Linked DNA regions of Homo sapiens: region 1 is linked to region 2. Evidence: fine-mapped expression QTL. Tissue or cell type: lung. Region 2 holds a variant in brackets; the other region holds the start of a gene. All regions are shown on one strand. Distances are from middle to middle.

What was found. PIP is the estimated chance that this variant, and not a neighbour inherited with it, causes the effect.
Region 1: STYXL1 starts here. The variant in region 2 is fine-mapped to the expression of STYXL1 in lung (TOPMed, PIP 0.91).

Annotation. Positions count from the first base shown.
Region 1 is chr7:76,043,707-76,051,790 of GRCh38, forward strand. STYXL1 (serine/threonine/tyrosine interacting like 1) reads right to left here and starts at 4,294. Exons shown (of 9, transcript NM_001317785.2): 1 at 3,956-4,294. It overlaps MDH2 (malate dehydrogenase 2), which reads left to right and starts at 4,400. Exons shown (of 9, transcript NM_005918.4): 1 at 4,400-4,520. The coding sequence starts at 4,455. RefSeq lists enhancers at 3,767-4,549, 3,995-4,084, 4,195-4,274, 4,550-5,331 and a silencer at 4,525-4,684.
Region 2 is chr7:76,217,713-76,225,813 of GRCh38, forward strand. The region is part of intron 1 of SRRM3 (serine/arginine repetitive matrix 3); the gene reads left to right. Among named protein-coding and RNA genes, the nearest start is that of SRRM3, 20 kb to the left of the region's middle. RefSeq lists enhancers at 5,078-5,578, 6,917-7,421 and a silencer at 7,766-7,966. The variant TG/T (reference allele first, on the strand shown) is at 4,836.

The DNA of each region.
Region 1 (8,084 bases), 170 kb before region 2:
TATAACCCCCTCCACCAACACAGGATGCCTCAGAAGCCATAGTTGGCCTGGGCTGGGGTGGGATGGAAGAGGAAACAAAATAAACAGAAGTCAACTACTGTCCTCCTCAAATGTGGGAGCCCAAAGAAAGCTTGAGAGGGGAAGAGAAGCAGCTTTACCTTTGAATTAAATTCCTAGTTTTGATTATTAACATGAACTGGACAGTAAGTCTGTCCTAGTAACCAGACACAATCCAAGGGCAAGCAAAGATTTAAAGACAGAAAGCTGCTGCATGATTGAATTCTACTTCTTGACTGTGGAAACCCTGCTTGTTTAATATAAGTTTCACTTGCAAAACACCAAGTAAAATCAATGCCTACCACACAGTGCTTCATACAGCAGCCAATAAGACTGTTGTTAATTACCTTGGTATTTCCTTAGAGAGAGGCAGATAGGAGCTGAGTGTGAGGCTTTTTATGTTTTTTTCCTTTGAGATAAGGTCTCATTCTGTCACCCAGACTGGGGTGCAGTGGTGCAAACACAGCTCACTGCAGCCTCAAACTCCCAGGCTCAATTCTCCTGCCTTAGCTTCCTGAGTAACTGGGACCACTGGCACATACCACCATGCTTGGCTAATTTTTATTATTTGTAGACAGGGTCTCCTGTGTTGCCCAGGCTGGTATTGAACTCCTGGGCTCAAGCGATCCTCCCACCTTGGCCTTCCAGAGGGGTGGAATTACAGGCATGAGCCACTGCACTGGGCCAAATGTGAGGCTTTTCTAGCAGTCAAGTTGTTTGGGATGGCCCAAGTAGAAGGCTTGGGAGGTAGCGAGTTCCTCTTCTGTGGAGATGAGGACTTGGGAGGGATGTGGAGGAAACTGAATTCCAGATGTGGGAGGGAGCCTGACAATCTGTGATTCCAGTTTATTGCTCATGGTCTCAACTCTCCCCCTCTACAGAGGTGACTTCCGCCCTGGCCTGAGTTTCAATCCCACAGTTCCTTTTTTCCCCCCTTAAATGAGACATATCTTGCTCTGTCACCCATGTCAGAATGCAGTGGCACAATCATGGCTCACTACAGCCTTGACCTCCCCCGATCGCCTGAGCTCAAGCGATTGTTTCATGTCAGCCTCTTGGGTAGCTGGGACTACAAGCACACACCATCACGCCCAGAGAATTTTCGTACTTTTTGTAGAGATGGGGTTTTGCCATGTTACCCAGGCTGGTCCTGAATTCCTGAGCTCAAGTGATCGTCCGCCTTGGCTGCTCAAAGTGTTGGGATTACAGGCATGAACACGGCCCATACCACTGAAAGGTCTATATGGACAACTCAGCATAACTCCCAATTAAGCCCATCTAAAACGGAACTCTTTATTTTTTCTCCTCTCCTTTGGTATAACCTCCTTTATTTTTCTCCTCTCCTTTGTATAACCCGACTTCCCTCTTTATGTATTTTCCACACCTCTTTCTTTCACTCCTCAAACCCAGATGAGCACAGACTGTTACCCATTCTTCCCATGAGACTTCTCCCACACTGGCCCTACCCACTCCATTTCTATGGCCACCACCGTAATTCAGACCTTTGTCATCCATAAAATAGATTCCTAAACAATCTCCCTGAATAGATTCCTAAACAATCTCCATTTTTTTTTTCCTGGGAATTCTTAGCATACAAGGTCAGTCTAATCTTCCTCAAACACAGTTCTGGCAGTGTCACAAAAGCCTGATTGGCCAGGTGCAGTGGCTCACGCCTATAATCCCAGCACTTTGAGAGGCTGACTCGGGCAGATCACTTGAGGTTAGGAGTTCTAGACCAGCCTGGCCAACATGACAAATCCCTGTCTCTGCTAAAAATACAAAAATTAGCCAGGTGTGGTGGTGCACACCTGTAATCCCAGCTACTTGGGAGGCTGAGGCAGGAGAACTGCGTGAACCCGGAGGTGGAGGTTGCAGTGAGCCGAGATCGCGCCACTGCACTGCAGCCTGGGCAACAGCGTGAGGCTCCATCTCAAATAAATAAACAACCTTTGATAAACACTTGCTTCCCAAGAAATGAAATACAAACTTCTCAGCTAACATTCATGGGACCGGCACAATCTAGTTTTTCCCAACCTGCTGTTTCCAGCTGTACCTAAAACCACTCAACTCTCCACAAATTCACTGAGGCCCTTTCAGCCCAGTCGCATGTTGGACAAAAAAAACAGAAGAAAGACTTAGTACCTGGCAAGACTTAATACCTGGCTCTGAGGTGCTCTCAGTTACAAGACAGAGGAGTAAATAATTACCAGAAGATGCAGTCAGTGATAAGATAAACAAAGGACACTGCTTGCCCTAATGTCCCCACTCCAAAATAAATGATCTATTCACTGTCCCCTGAATACTGGCCTATGCTTATTTTTTCCCGCTAGGATTTTATTTGGCCTTTTTTCTCCTCCTTTCCTGTCTAAACATTTCCCATTGTTAAATGCTCAGGCCCTAGTGCCCCTCCTTTGAGAATTCTGATTCCAAGGCAAGGGATCTTTCCCTCCTCTGGAGTTGAATGTTCCATTGAGAAACACCTACTCTTCCAGCATGTCTCAGCTTATCTGCTGTGTGTGTGTGTGTGTGTGTGTGTGTGTGTGTGTGTGTGTGTGTGTGTGTGTGTGTGTGTGTGTGCGCGCGCGCGCGCGCGCGCTTTTGAGCCGGAGTTTAGCTCTTATCACCCAGGATGGAGTACAATGGCACAATCTTGGCTCACAGCAACCTCCACCTCCTGGGTTCAAGGGATTCTCCTGCCTCAGCCTCCTGAGTAGCTGGGACTACAGGCACACGCCACCATGCCCAGCCAATTTTTGTATATTTAGTAGAGATGGGGTTTCGCCACATTAGCCAGTCTGGTCTCAAACTCCTGACCTCAGGTGATCTGCCCGCCTTGACCTCCCAAAGTGCTGGGATTACAGGCATAAGCCACCACACCCGGCTTTTTTTTTTTTTTTTTTTGAGACAGAGTCTTTCTCCGTCGCCCAAGCTGGAGTACAGTGGGGTTATCTCGGCTCACTGCAACCTCCCTCCACCTCCCGGGTTCAAGCGATTCTCCTGCCTCAGCCTCCGGAGTAGTTGGGGCTACAGGTGTACACCACCACGCTGGGCTAATTTTTGTATTTTTAGTAGAGATGGGGTTTCACCATGTTAGCCAGGCTGGTCATGAACTCCTGGCCTCAAGTGATCGGCCCGCCTCAGCCTCCCAGAGTGCTGGGATTACAGGCATGAGCCACCTTGCCTGGGGGTGTTGTTTAATTTTAAAAATATGTATCAGGCCGGGCGCGGTGGCTCACGCCTGTAATCTCAGCACTTTGGGAGGCCGAGGCGGGTGGATCACGAGGTCAGGAGTTCGAGACCAGCCTGACCAACGTGGTGAAACCCCGTCTCTACTAAAAAAAAAATACAAAAAATTAGCCAGGTGTAGTGGTGCGCTAATCCCAGCTACTCAGGAGAATGAGGCAGGAGAACCACTTGAACCTGACAGGCAGAGGTTGCAGTGAGCCAAGATCGCGCCACTGCACTCCAGCCTGGGCTAGAGAGACTCCGTCTCAAAAAAATAAATAAATTCATACATTTAAGTAATAAACTCATTGTGAGCAAGGAATTCTACTCGACTTTCTGTCTGCGTAAACTCTACAAATCCACTTGGCCTCAGCCACAGTGTCTTTATTCGTAAAGCAGAAACAGTGGGACCGTCAGAGCACTGCCGGGCAGGCGAGAGAAGACAGGAACTGTATGACCACGGAAGTTGTTGTCCCTACAACCTATTTGCTCATCTGGAACACAGAATAGTGGTCCTCTAAAGCTTGCAGGGCTGGAGGTCGCCATTATCAGCAGTGGTGTCACTAAACCTGAACCCAAGGGTCTCTGCAACTTGGGAAACGACGGCCCGGATCTGAGGAGATGGCCCCTTCCTCCCACCCCGCCTAAGGACTCTCAGCCTCCCTGACCCTACCTTTCCGGAGCTCAGAGTCCCCTCTGGCCTCCAAGGGCAGAAGGAATGGGTTTGGCTGAGGTCGGGGGCTCGGGTCTGGGACGCGCTCCACCTCCCCGGCTGCGCGACTATGGCCAGGCTCCCTGTCGGAGCCTCTGCCTGGGGCCCCACCTGGAAAAATGGCTCCTCTAAGGCGCTTCCAGCCTAAAGCCCGTCCTCTTCCACCTCTTGGGTGCAGACTGGCCCTCCCACTCCGACCGCAGGTCCCCCACCGGCCACACAGACGGCTACGCTAGAACCCAGCCAAACACCGGGGTTGCCAGGATGGTCCCACAGCTTTCCTTTCCGACTCCCGGAAGTGGCCGTGATCTCACGAGATCCCGGAGGCGAGCGCGACCGGAAGTCCGGTCACTCTCGCGAGGCCCCAGAGAGCAGGCGCTGGGCAGTGTGGAGGTCGTTGGAGTCACTTCCCCGTCACCAGCTCCTGTGCCTGCCAGTCGGTGCCCCTCCCGCTCCAGCCATGCTCTCCGCCCTCGCCCGGCCTGCCAGCGCTGCTCTCCGCCGCAGCTTCAGCACCTCGGCCCAGGTAGGCCAGACGAGGGGCGGCCTGCAGGCGGAGGCCCCCCGGCCCGGGCCACGTGCGTCCCCGGTTCGCGGGCAGCTCTGACCCTCTCCAGGCCAGCCTGGACCGCAGGGATGCCCGGCACTGGCTGGAGACTGTGGCGCCCGGGGCAGGCCCTGACACTGGCCTGGAGGTGCGGGGGAGAAAGCCGGGGAAAAGGGGGCGAGGTAGTCCCGCTCCAGGGCCGGTCCATTTGTCAGGGTTCCCCCAGGTCTCCCAGATTTCCCAGAGGACCTGCTCTTGGCTTGCACGCCTTCAAGGTTGGGAAACCAGGGCTCTGCATCTGAAAGTAAACTTACGTTTTTTTCTGCAGCGTTCCATTGCTTTGACGTAGCTAATCTCCTTGCAGCATCCGTGTGAGTTGTGCGTGAATAAAAGAAATCGTATACTTCCTAATTCCATAGTATGGACAAACCGAGGCTAGAGAACTGGGCCAGGGTTACAGTCATTTGGCCAGAGGATTAGAATTCAGCGCTTCTGACCTGAAGACGGCTTCCTCTTAACCTTTTTGGAGGATCTCTCCTGCTGTGGGCGGACTGAGCCTGCCGCCAGGTGTCTTAACAGTGCTTGACTTGGCCCGCGACCACTTAAGCCTAGGAGCCTAGGCTATTTTTAGCCATCTTCTAGAATGGTGGTTCTTAAACTCTGCAGTGTGTCAGAATCACCAGAAAGCTAATAAAAAACAGACGTCTGGGTTCATTGAAGAAGCTTAAGACTGCGGGGGGGGGGGGGGGGGTCCGCATTTTTACCAGGTGAATCTAATTAAACCTAATTTTGAGAACCCAGGAGGTGCTCGCATTGCCTTTTAATTACGACGCCCAAGAGGGAGGTAATTTTAAAGGGGAATCCAAATTTATCATCGAAGTTCTCGAGTTTCCTGTACATCCAGTTCATTTGAAAAATAAATACAAATGCTCCTGGATTGATGGCTACTTCCCATACCCATCGCAAGTTGGTAATATCCTAAGTCAAAAGGCGAGTTTAACTTTGTGTATTTTCAACTTGCAATGGGTTCCCACAGGCAACCCCATTGTAAGTTGAATGTACCAAATGCTTTTGCGCTGCGGTGAAGTGGGGGCCCAGCTGTATACAGATAAGTACATTAAGTACCTGTGCTTGCCAACAACTATGCTGGGTGCTGCAGGGGATACCAAGATAAGTGAGAAGTGACACTTGATATGGGACAGGAATGAGTAAACTTAGGACAGGTGGAAGCGATGAAGGTCTTAGGGAATGAGTAAACTTAGGACAGGTGGAGGCGATGAAGGTCTTAGGGAATGAGTAAACAGGACAGGAGGGATGAGGTGTGGGGGAGGGGCAGCCAACCAAAGAGAGGACAGGGGTGTCCAGGGAGAGGTTGAGTTTTGGTAGGACCTTCAGATATCCGACATATTTATTGAGCTAGGTACTGGAAATACAGCGGTGAACAAAACACAGAAGTCCCTGCTCTCACGGAAATTACTAGATATTTTACTTATTGCCCCACTCATTATAAAGTATCTTAAAATAGTGATGAACATGCAAGAAAAATGGGGATTGTAGGGTGCTTGTGTTAGGGAAGAGGGTACCAATTTTATTTACTTTTTTTGATGCAGTGCCTCGCCCTGTCGACAGGCTGGAGTGCAGTGGCGTGATCTCGGTTCACTGCAGCCTCCACCTCCCAGGTTGGAGCGATTCTCCTGCCTCAGCCTCCCGAATAGCTGGGACTACAGGCGCGCACCACCGTGCCCAGCTAATTTTTGTGTTTTTAGTAGAGATGGGGTTTCACCATGTTGGCCAGGATGGACCTGACAGAGTCCCACTCTGTTGCCCAGGATGGAGTGCAGTGGCGCCATCTTGGCTCACTGCAACCAACTCTTGGGCTCAAGCTATCCTCCTGCCTCATCCTCCCGAGTAGGTGGGAATCACAGGCAAGGGCTACGACAGCTGGGTAATTTTTGTAGTTTTAGTAGAGATGGGGTTTCACCATGTTGGCCAGGCTGGTCTCAAACTCCTGGCCTTAAGTGATCCACCCTCCTTGGCCTCCCAAAGTGCTGGGATTACAGGCGTGAGCCACCACTCCCAGCCGAGGGTAGCAGTTTTACATCAGCCAGGGTAGGCCTCACGCAGAGTGAGATGTTTGAGTAAAGTCTGAAGGAAGCAGAGATCACATCATATGGAAAGAGTATTGCAGGTAAGGGATATGTCTCAGGATGTAGCTGAGAGCCCTTGGAGAAGCATGGGGCATGCCTTGAAGGTTTGAGAAAATGAGGCTAGGGTAGTTCCAGAGAAGGCAGTGGAGGTAACAGAACAGGCCTTGTAAAACTTTGGTATTTTCTCAGAAATGGGGCGGCCAGTTGAGGGTTTTCAGCTGCGTAATGACTTGCTCTTCCTTCCATTTTAACAAGATGGTCTTAGGAGTGAGAGAAAGGTAGGTTAGGAGTTCATTGTGGTTATCTAGGTGCAGGTGGTAAGAAATGATTGAATTCTGGGTATTCATTGATGGTACCAGAAGGATTTGCTGATGTGTGATTAGATAAGGGGTCGGGGATGACACCAAGGTTTTGGGCCTTGGAGTTGGGCTGAAATAGGCAAGACTTATAGAAGAGAGTGGGTTTAACCAGGGAGAAGATATCAGGAGTTCAGTTTTTATTTATTTACTGAGAGTCTCGCTCTGTTGCCCAGGCTGGAGTACAGTGGCGTGATCTCGGCTCACTGCAGCCTCCGCCTCCTGGGTTCAAGTGGTTCTCTCACCTCAGCCTCCTGAGTAGCTGGGATTACAGGTGCTGCCACCACGCCCAACTAATTTTTTTTTGTATTTTCAGTAGAGATGGGGTTTCGCCATGTTGGCCAGGCTGGTCTCAAACTCCTGACCTCAGGTGATCCACCTGTCTTGGCCTCCCAAGGTACTGGGATTATAGACGTGAGCCACCACACCCGGCCAGGATCTCAGTTTTTCATATGTTCAATTTAAAATGCCTGTTGGGCATACAAGCGACATTGTTGAGAAGGCAGCTGATGAAAGCAGAAAGAAAGATGGGCTTGAGCCCATGGTGCAGTGGTCTCCAGACTTTGGATTTTTTTTTTTTTTTTTTTTGAGACGGAGTTCCGCTCTTGTTGCCCAGGCTGGAGTGCAATGGTGCGATCTCAGCTCACCGCAACCTCCGCCTCCCAGGTTCAAGCCATTCTCCTGCCTCAGCCTTCCGAGTAGCTGGGATTACAGGCATGCGCCACCATGCCTGGCTAATTTTGTATTTTTAGTAGAGACAGGGTTTCTCCATGTTGGTCAGGCTGGTCTCAAACTCCCGACCTCAGGTGATGCGCCCATCTCAGCCTCCCAAAGTGCTAGGATTAAACGCGTGAGCCACCACGCCTAGCTGGATCCTGTATCTTTAACAGTAAAAGCGTAGGAAGCACATAGCCCCAATGTATTTACTTATAGGTATATGTACTAATATATACATTACAATATAAACTCAAGTAGAAATTTTAAAACAAACCATAACACGTTATAAAGTGTTAAAACTTATAAATGAAGGCAGTGTTAAC
Region 2 (8,101 bases):
GCTTGCCCAGCAGGATATTGATAAGATGTCCCAATAATGAGGCAGTTCTGGCCCTTGTTCCAGCAGAATGTGGTACTCCTTGCATTTTCTCCCAGCAGAATATCGTAAGAGGAAGGCTGTTTCTTCAGTCGGGCCTTTGTCCACCTTGTGGTCAGGTGGTTAGGTAGGATGTTTCTCACGACCCGAACCACTGTGAAGTGTTTCACTTTGACTAAGGTCTGCAAAATAGCAGGGAGCTTACAAAATGGTGCAGTTTAGACTAACACTACCCAAGCCCTGCCAGTATCCAGGCCCCTGACACTTGGTCCAGATAAGAGAAACTGAGGCTCAGAAAGGAAAAGGGATCTGGTTATACAACTTCTAGCCCATCGTGCCTTCCTCTGCCTAGCTCCCAGGTGTGAGCCTGGAGCGGGGGTTGGGATCTGATCCTGGGGGAAGGAGAAGGAGGTGATGAAAACTGGGTAAAGCACACAGGCTTCTCCGATTTCACTGCAGGGTCAGTCCTCAAGGCCAGCTTGGGAGGGTCCTCAGAGAGCATGGGCTTCTGACACACAGGTGGCTCTCCCTCCATATCTCCACCAAGGCCATCTGATTTGCACCCTCCCGGGACACAGAGACCGCCACCTGCCATCGGTGACAGCTCAGTCATAAGACTGTTCTTTCTTGGGCTAAGCTGAAGCTGCTTCTGTAGAACATTCTCCCCACCCTCCACCCCACCCCCATCTCCATTCTTGCTCAGCAGCCCCAGGGAAGCTGTCTGCTCTTGGTGGCAAGGCTTCAGCCTCCCACAAGGCCACTGAGGGCCCTGACAGAGAGCAGGAAGACTGAGTAAGGCAGGGATTCTTTTGTTCCTCTAGAATGCAGGGGAGAAGAGACCAAACCACTACTTGCTTATTTCATATCAGTTCTGGCCTCTACAGATCTGTCTACTAGGTTGAACTCGTCTGTGTTGCTTTCTTTTCTTTTTTTTTTTTTTTTTTTTTTTTGGCAAGGTCTCACTCTGTTGCCCAGGCTGGATTGCAGTGGTGAAATCTCGGCTCACTACAACCTCTGCTTCCCGGGTTCAAGAGATTCTCCTGCCTCAGCTTCCCAAGTAGCTGGGACTATAGGCATGCACCATCACACCTGGCCTTTTTGTTTGTTTGTTTTTTGTTTTTTTCAGACAGAGTGTCGCTCTTGTTGCCCAGGCTGGGGTGCAGCGGCGTGATCTTGGCTCATTGCCACTTCTGCCTCCCAGGTTCAAGCAATTCTCCTGCCTCAGCCTCCCAAGTAGCTGGGATTACAGGCACCAGCCACCATGCCTGGCTAATTTTTGTATTTTTAGTAGAGATGGCCATGTTGGCTAGGCTGGTCTTGAACTCCTGGCCTCAAGTGATCCACCTGCCTCAGCCTCCCAAAGTGTTGGGATTACAGGCGTGAGCCACCATACCCGGCCTGTATTGCTTTCAGTAGCCAGTGTTGCTTGTTCTGATACCTTCCAGCTGTCTGTCATGCTGGTGTGCAGTGTCCCCACTGTCCTCTGTTGATCAGTCGGTCTGAGCTCCTGGCTTGGCTGGGTCTGTCCCATTTACAAGGCTCTGTATGACCTGTCCTGGGCTACATCAATCTGCACTGATCTCACCTGAGCATTGTTACCTGTTCTCACCTGGGCTGCATTACCTGTACTGTGGACTCCTCTGGAGGCAGCAGACAGTGGAGGCCTCCTTGTCCCTCCTTGTCCCTTGTCAGTGATGCTCCAGCCCCCAGCCGGCTTTCTCTTTGATCTCAGCCAGCCCAGCAGAAGCCTGAGGGGATGCCCTGGGCAGCCTGCTTGGTTGCCACCCAAATCTTTGCTCCAGGAACCCAAATCAGAGCCAACAAAGACAGGAGCCTTGACCAGAGAAGTCCTTCCTATCTATTCAAAGACAGGGCTGGGGCCGGGTGCGGTGGCTCACACCTGTCATCTCAGCACTCTGGGAAGCCAAGGTGGGTGGATCACTTGAGGTCAGGAGTTTGAGACCAGCCTGGCCAACATAGTGAAACCCCGTCTCTACTAAAAGTACAAAAAATTAGCCAGGCATGGTGGCACACGCCTGTAATCCCAGCTACTTGGGTGGCTAAGGCATGAGAATGGCTGGAACCCAGGAGGTGGAGGTTGCAGTGAGCCGAGATCACACCACTGCACTCCAGCCTGGACAACACAGCGAGATACTGTCTCAAAAACAAACAAACAAACAAACAAAGACAAGGCTGGACTCGAGGGCTTACAAAGTAGATGACCATGAGGCCCATGCAAATGTCAGCATGCACATAGTCTAGGCATAGTGAGAGCAGTGACCAAGGACCTCTCCCTCTGTAGTTCCCAGAGATGATGGTGGTAAAACAATAAGTAGTGAGCTCCCATCGGTGCAAACACAGGCGGGGTCTCAGCAAACAGTCCCAGGTGGCTGCTCTGTGCCAAGCCCTGTGCTGAGCACTAGGGATACAGATGTGGATTGGCCCAGTCTCTGCCCTTGGACAGCCCTCAGTCAGCCAAGGAGCAACAGTCATGCTAGATTGCGAGTAGTAGCCACAGGGTGACAGCAGAGGCACGTCCCCCAGGGAGTCCTTCCAGGCAGTCAGGGAAGGCTTCACGGAGGAGGTGATGCTTGAGCAGTCTTGCAGGAAGGGTAGATGAGGAAGAACCTTCCAGGCATGAGGAACAGCATGGGTCAGTGCATTCTTGGGTGGAGTGGAATGTGGTGTGGAGCTGGACAGGGATAGCGTAGGACTGGGCACATTGCCAGCTAAGCCACCAGGGCTTTCTCCTGTGGTCTGCAGGCTCGCCCTCTCTGCCTCACCGGCCCCGGACACCCCATCTTGGCCCTGGAAACTTTGCCAGCCCAGCCACCTCCATTGCCCAGCACAGACTGAGACGGCAGGGAAAGGGTCAGCCCGAGTCCTGCCCAGGCATGGCTGGACCCAGCCCTAGACTGAAAAGGGGAGGGCAGAAGAGGGACCACAAGGGCTATGGTCAAAACACAGAGCTGCAGTGCCCGCACCCTTGCAAGCCAGGCTGCCTGCCCCTCCAGGAACCAGCCCTCCCACCCCCAGCCAGCCCCAGCCTTGGGGCTCTGGCCAAGATTTTCCTCCAGCTCCAGCAGGGGCAGCAGGAAGCTCCAGCTGCTGAATTATTGAAAGCAAGGCTTTCAGCAGTTCCCCTCCCCCCACCGCGTCTTCTGGAGGGTTGGGTAACAAACAGCCGTGCCAGCACCAGCGCCTCTCCAGAGAGACTCCAAGGAGTCATGGAGGAAGCTCACTGGGCTCTGCCCGCTCCCTGAGCCACCTCCTCCCAGGCCTCTCCCTGCAGTGTCTTCTTACCCGTCTTTTTTTTTTTTTTTTTTCCAGACAAGGTCTCACTTTGTTGCCCAGGCTGGAGTGCAGTGGCGCAATCTCAGTTCACCGCAACCTCCGCCTCCTGGGTACAAGCGATTCTCCTGCCTCAGCCTCCCAAGTAGCTGGGTTCACAGGTGCCCGCCACCACACCCAGTTAATTTTTGTATTTTTAGTAAAAGAGTTTTGCCATGTTGGCCAGGCTGGTCTCGAACTCCTGACCTCAGGTGATCCACCCGCCTCAGCCTCCCAAATTGCTGGGATTACAGGTTTGAGCCACTGGGCCTGCCCTCCTCTTTTTTTTTTTTTTTTTTTTTGAGACGGAGTCTCGCTCTGTCGCCCAGGCTGGAGTGCAGTGGCATGATCTCAGCTCACTGCAAGCTCTGCCTCCCAGGTTCACACCATTCTCCTGCCTCAGCCTCCCTACTAGCTGGGACTACAGGCGCCCACCACCACGCCCAGCTAATTTTTCATATTTTTAGTAGAGACGGGGTTTCACCGTATTAGCCAGAATGGTCTCGATTTCCTGACCTTGTGATCCACCCGCCTCGGCCCCCCAAAGTGCTGGGATTACAGGCGTGAGCCACCGCGCCCCGCACCTGCCCTCTTCTTACCCGTCTCTACTGGTCTCTACTGGTCTGTGTGGGTTTGTATCTGTGAAAAGTACCATGATTGGGCTATGAGTGTTTGTAATGATTTAAAATGGTAATTATTGACCTGATCTGTTCTGATTTATATGGATCTATATTTCCTCCTGGTCTAACTCATGCCTGTAATGGTTTAGACTGATTGGCATAGTTCATGGCTGATAACAGCTAACACTTAATGCATAGAGCTTATCGCCTACCCAGGCACTGTACACACGTTATTCCTTTACTCCTTACCCTGAGGTGCGGGTACTTATATTAACCCCATTTTACAGATAAGAAAGAGGTTAAGTCACTACGCACACATAGTAAGTGATTTGAACCCATCTGCTACTGGCTGATCGGCACGGGTCTGTCTTGGTTCATGTGGACTGGGTTATCAGTTATCCTTTAAGGGCCTGAGGGCATCAGGTTGCAAGAGAGAGTTGAGCACAGTGGCTCACACCTGCAATCCCAGAGCTTTGGGAGGCCAAGGCAGGAGGGTTGCTTGAGTCCAGGAGTTAGAGACAAACTAGTGAGACCCTGTCTCTACAAAACTTCTAAAAACTAGCTGGACATGGTTGTATGCACCTGTGTGTAGTAGTGGCCAGCTACTTGGGAGGCTGAGGTGGGAGGATCACTTGAGCCCAAGAGGTAGAGGCTGCAGTGAGCCATAATTGTACCACTACACTCCAGCCTGGGTGATAGGAGACCCCGTCTCAAAAAAAAAAAAAAAAAAAAGTTGCAAGAGAGATCTTTCCAAAATGCAAATCTGACCTCCCCAGCTCAATACCCTTCACTGGCTCCCTATTGCCTGCAGGGTGTGGTCCTAGGTCCTCAGCCTGAGTCTGAAGGCCC[TG/T]GGGACCTGGCCCTCCCTCCCCTCCTGGCTTAGTGGGCTCAGCAAGACAAGCCCATGTTTTGTTTTGTTTTTTTAATTTTTTTAATTTTTTGAGATGGAGTCTCCCTCTGTCTCTCAGGCTGGAGTGCAGTGGCGTGATCTTGACTCACTGAAACCTCTGCCTCCTGGGTTCAAGCAATCCTCCTGCCTCAGCCTCCCAAGTAGCTGGGATTACAGGCACCCGCCACCATGCCTGGCTAATTTTTGTATTTTTAGTGGAGACAGGCCAGGCTGACCAGGCTGGTCTCGAACTCCTGACCTCCAATGATTCTCCTGGCTCAGCCTCCCAAAGTGCTGGAATTACAGGATTGAGCCACCGCGCCCAGCTTCAAGTCCATGCTTTTCCCTCTTTCCTCTCCATGCCTTCTTCCTGCTCACCCCCACACCCTGACCAGGACATCCTTCTCCTCCTCCTTTGTCCCGCCAACTCCTACTTATGCTTCAAGATCTCTCCTCCAGGGAGACCTCCTAGCTATGCTCCTCTCCTGACGCACCCCAGCTGTTAGATGTCTCTGCCATGCATCCATCATCCCCAGCATGATAAGCACCAGTGCTTCTCCTTCTGCATTTCTCTCGTGTCCTCTGGTGAACCCCAGAGTAGCCACTCACAAATAGCTGTGACCTGAATGAATGACCCAACCCTGAAGTTGATGGGGTGTCTCTTGGTCCTCTGGTCCTTACCCCCCCAGCCCCACGCTCTTGGGCAGTGAGCACAGGGGAAGCTTTCAATATAAAGTGTTCAAGGCTGGAGGTCTGCAGAAGGGTCCTTACACAGGGAAGGGAAGGGTCAGCAGGAGAGTGCTCCAGGGAATATGTCCCTGTCATGGCTGCACCTGGCTTCAATGCCAGGATTTGGAGTGGGGACACACCTAGATTCCTTGGACATGATGCAGATGGCTTTTCTTTTCCAGCTTGATAAAGTATCTTGACAAACGATTGTTGCACACACTTATTTTTAACAAGACCCAGAATGAGTTTCACAACTTAAGGACCTGGTTTCATGGGTATTTATCAGTTCTGTCTCGTTTCTGACAGTTGGAAAGAATCTTTTTCCTCAGGAGGCACATCCTTGCCCACCTGCTGTCACCACACTGGGCTTTTTCTCTGGAAGGTCTCATCCTGCGTTTGCAGCCACCACCTTCACAGGAATGCAGTTTCCTGGATCATAAATTCCATTCCACTGTAGCCCTCTTAGCCAAGGGTCCCTGGATCTTAACATGCCCTTGGCTTTTGCCTTCCCTTCCCTTCCCTTCCCTTCCCTTCCCTTCCCTTCCCTTCCCTTCCCTTCCCTTCCCTTCCCTTCCCTCCCCACCCCTTCCCTCCCCTCCCCCAACTTGCCCCCCTCCCCCTCTCCCTTCTCTTCCCTTCCCTCTTTTTTTTTTGACAGAGCATCCCCTCCCCTCCCCCCAATTCCCCCTCCCCTGCCCCCACTTCCCCTCTCCCCTGCCCCCACTTCCCCTCTCTCCCTCTCCCTTCTCTTCCCTTCCCTCTTTTTTTTTTTTTTTTTTTTTGAGACAGAGTCTTGGTCTGTCCCCCAGGATGGAGTGCAGTGACACGATCACAGCTCACTGCAAGCTCCGCTCCTGGGTTCAAGCGATTCCCCTGCCACAGCCTCCTGAGTAGCTGGGAGTACAGGCGCACACTGCCAGTCCTGGCTAATTTTTTGTATTTTAGTAGAGACCGGGTTTCACCATGTTGCCCAGGCTGGTCTCAAACTCCTGAGCTCAGGCAATCTGCCCACCTTGGCCTCCCAAAATGCTAGGATTACAGGCATGAGCCACCGCGCCCGGCCAAAGACACATCTTTCAAAGGCACATGTCTAACATCATTCTCTTCATGAAACCTTCCCTGACCATCCTAGGCAAAGGTAGAGCCTCCCTGGTCTCTTTTTTGCTCCTGCAGGACTGGGTGGGTGGGTGGGAGAATGGCATCAGAATCTCTTCATAACAAGCCTGTTACCGCAAGAAAGGATGAATGAATGATCCCACTAAGCTACAAGCTACAAGACTAGGGAATATTGTCTCCGTCGAGGTATTGCTCCTCACAAGAGGGTATTAGCTACGAGGGTCTGCCCACAGACCCTGACCCAAATGATGAATAAAACGTACACTGATACACAGAGATTCTGTTTTGCCAGTCCTGCTGAGTGACCGCCTACACACCAAGAGAGGTTTGTCACTGTGGCCGCCCCGATCAGCTAGGGAGACTCACATTTATTCATTAAGATTAGTTAACAAAAGCTTGAGTCAGCGCCATTAGAGGTAATTGACATTGAGGACTTCCCGAGTAAAAAGCACACATCAAAGGCTCGTCTTGAGACCACATGAGTAAACAAGTTAACTAGATAACTTCCCCACATCCCGTTATTTACTACTCTAATCTATTTAACTGAAGGTAATGGGACCAGCCCACCTTCGCCCCGGTCTATTACCGAAGTCATGTGAAAACCCTCAGGCCTTCCGAAAGGGTTTTGTGGCTATCATAACTAATATTTTTTCCACCAGCCTGACCGAATCCCAACACTCCATTTTACAGATGAGGAAACTGAGGCTCGGAGAAGTTTAATGACTTTTCCTGATCACCCAGGCAGAAGTAGTGGAGCCAGAATTTAAGCTAAAGTCTTCTGACTCCAAGTCCTTGTCCTGGTCTAACACTCTTTTTCCTGGCCCCAGTAGAAGACAGCAGAAAGATCTTAGAAGTAAGAAGGTGGTTAAATTGTGTGACCACAGACGAAGTGCTCAAGTGCTTACTTGAAGCTGTGGGAATCTGTACCTTTGAGCGTGTGGAGGCTCTGAGTCCTGACATTACCTCTGGGGAGGCATGCCTCTGGCTGGCAAGGCCAGGAAAAAAAAGCCCCTAGAGGAACGGTGCTGCCCCCCTCCCCGCCCCCCCCGCCCCTTTCCCCGGCAAAAGAGGCTTCTCAGCCCCGGCAGCAAATGGGGCCCCCTGAACTGGTGATGGGGGTGCTGTCCGTGGTGCTGGAGGACTGCGACGCTGCCAGAGACAAGGGGAGCAGGGAGGAGTTTGCTCACTCCTGTAATCCCAGTGCTCTGGGAAGCCAAGGCGGGGGATCACTTGAGGCCAAGAGTTTGAGACCAGCCTGGGCAACAACGTGAGACCCTGTCTCTACAATAATAATAATAATAATTAATCTCCAGTGCCTTTTACGAGACATTCATTGCATACTAGGTACTGTGAGGGCATTTCCCATGCATTAGTCCTTTAC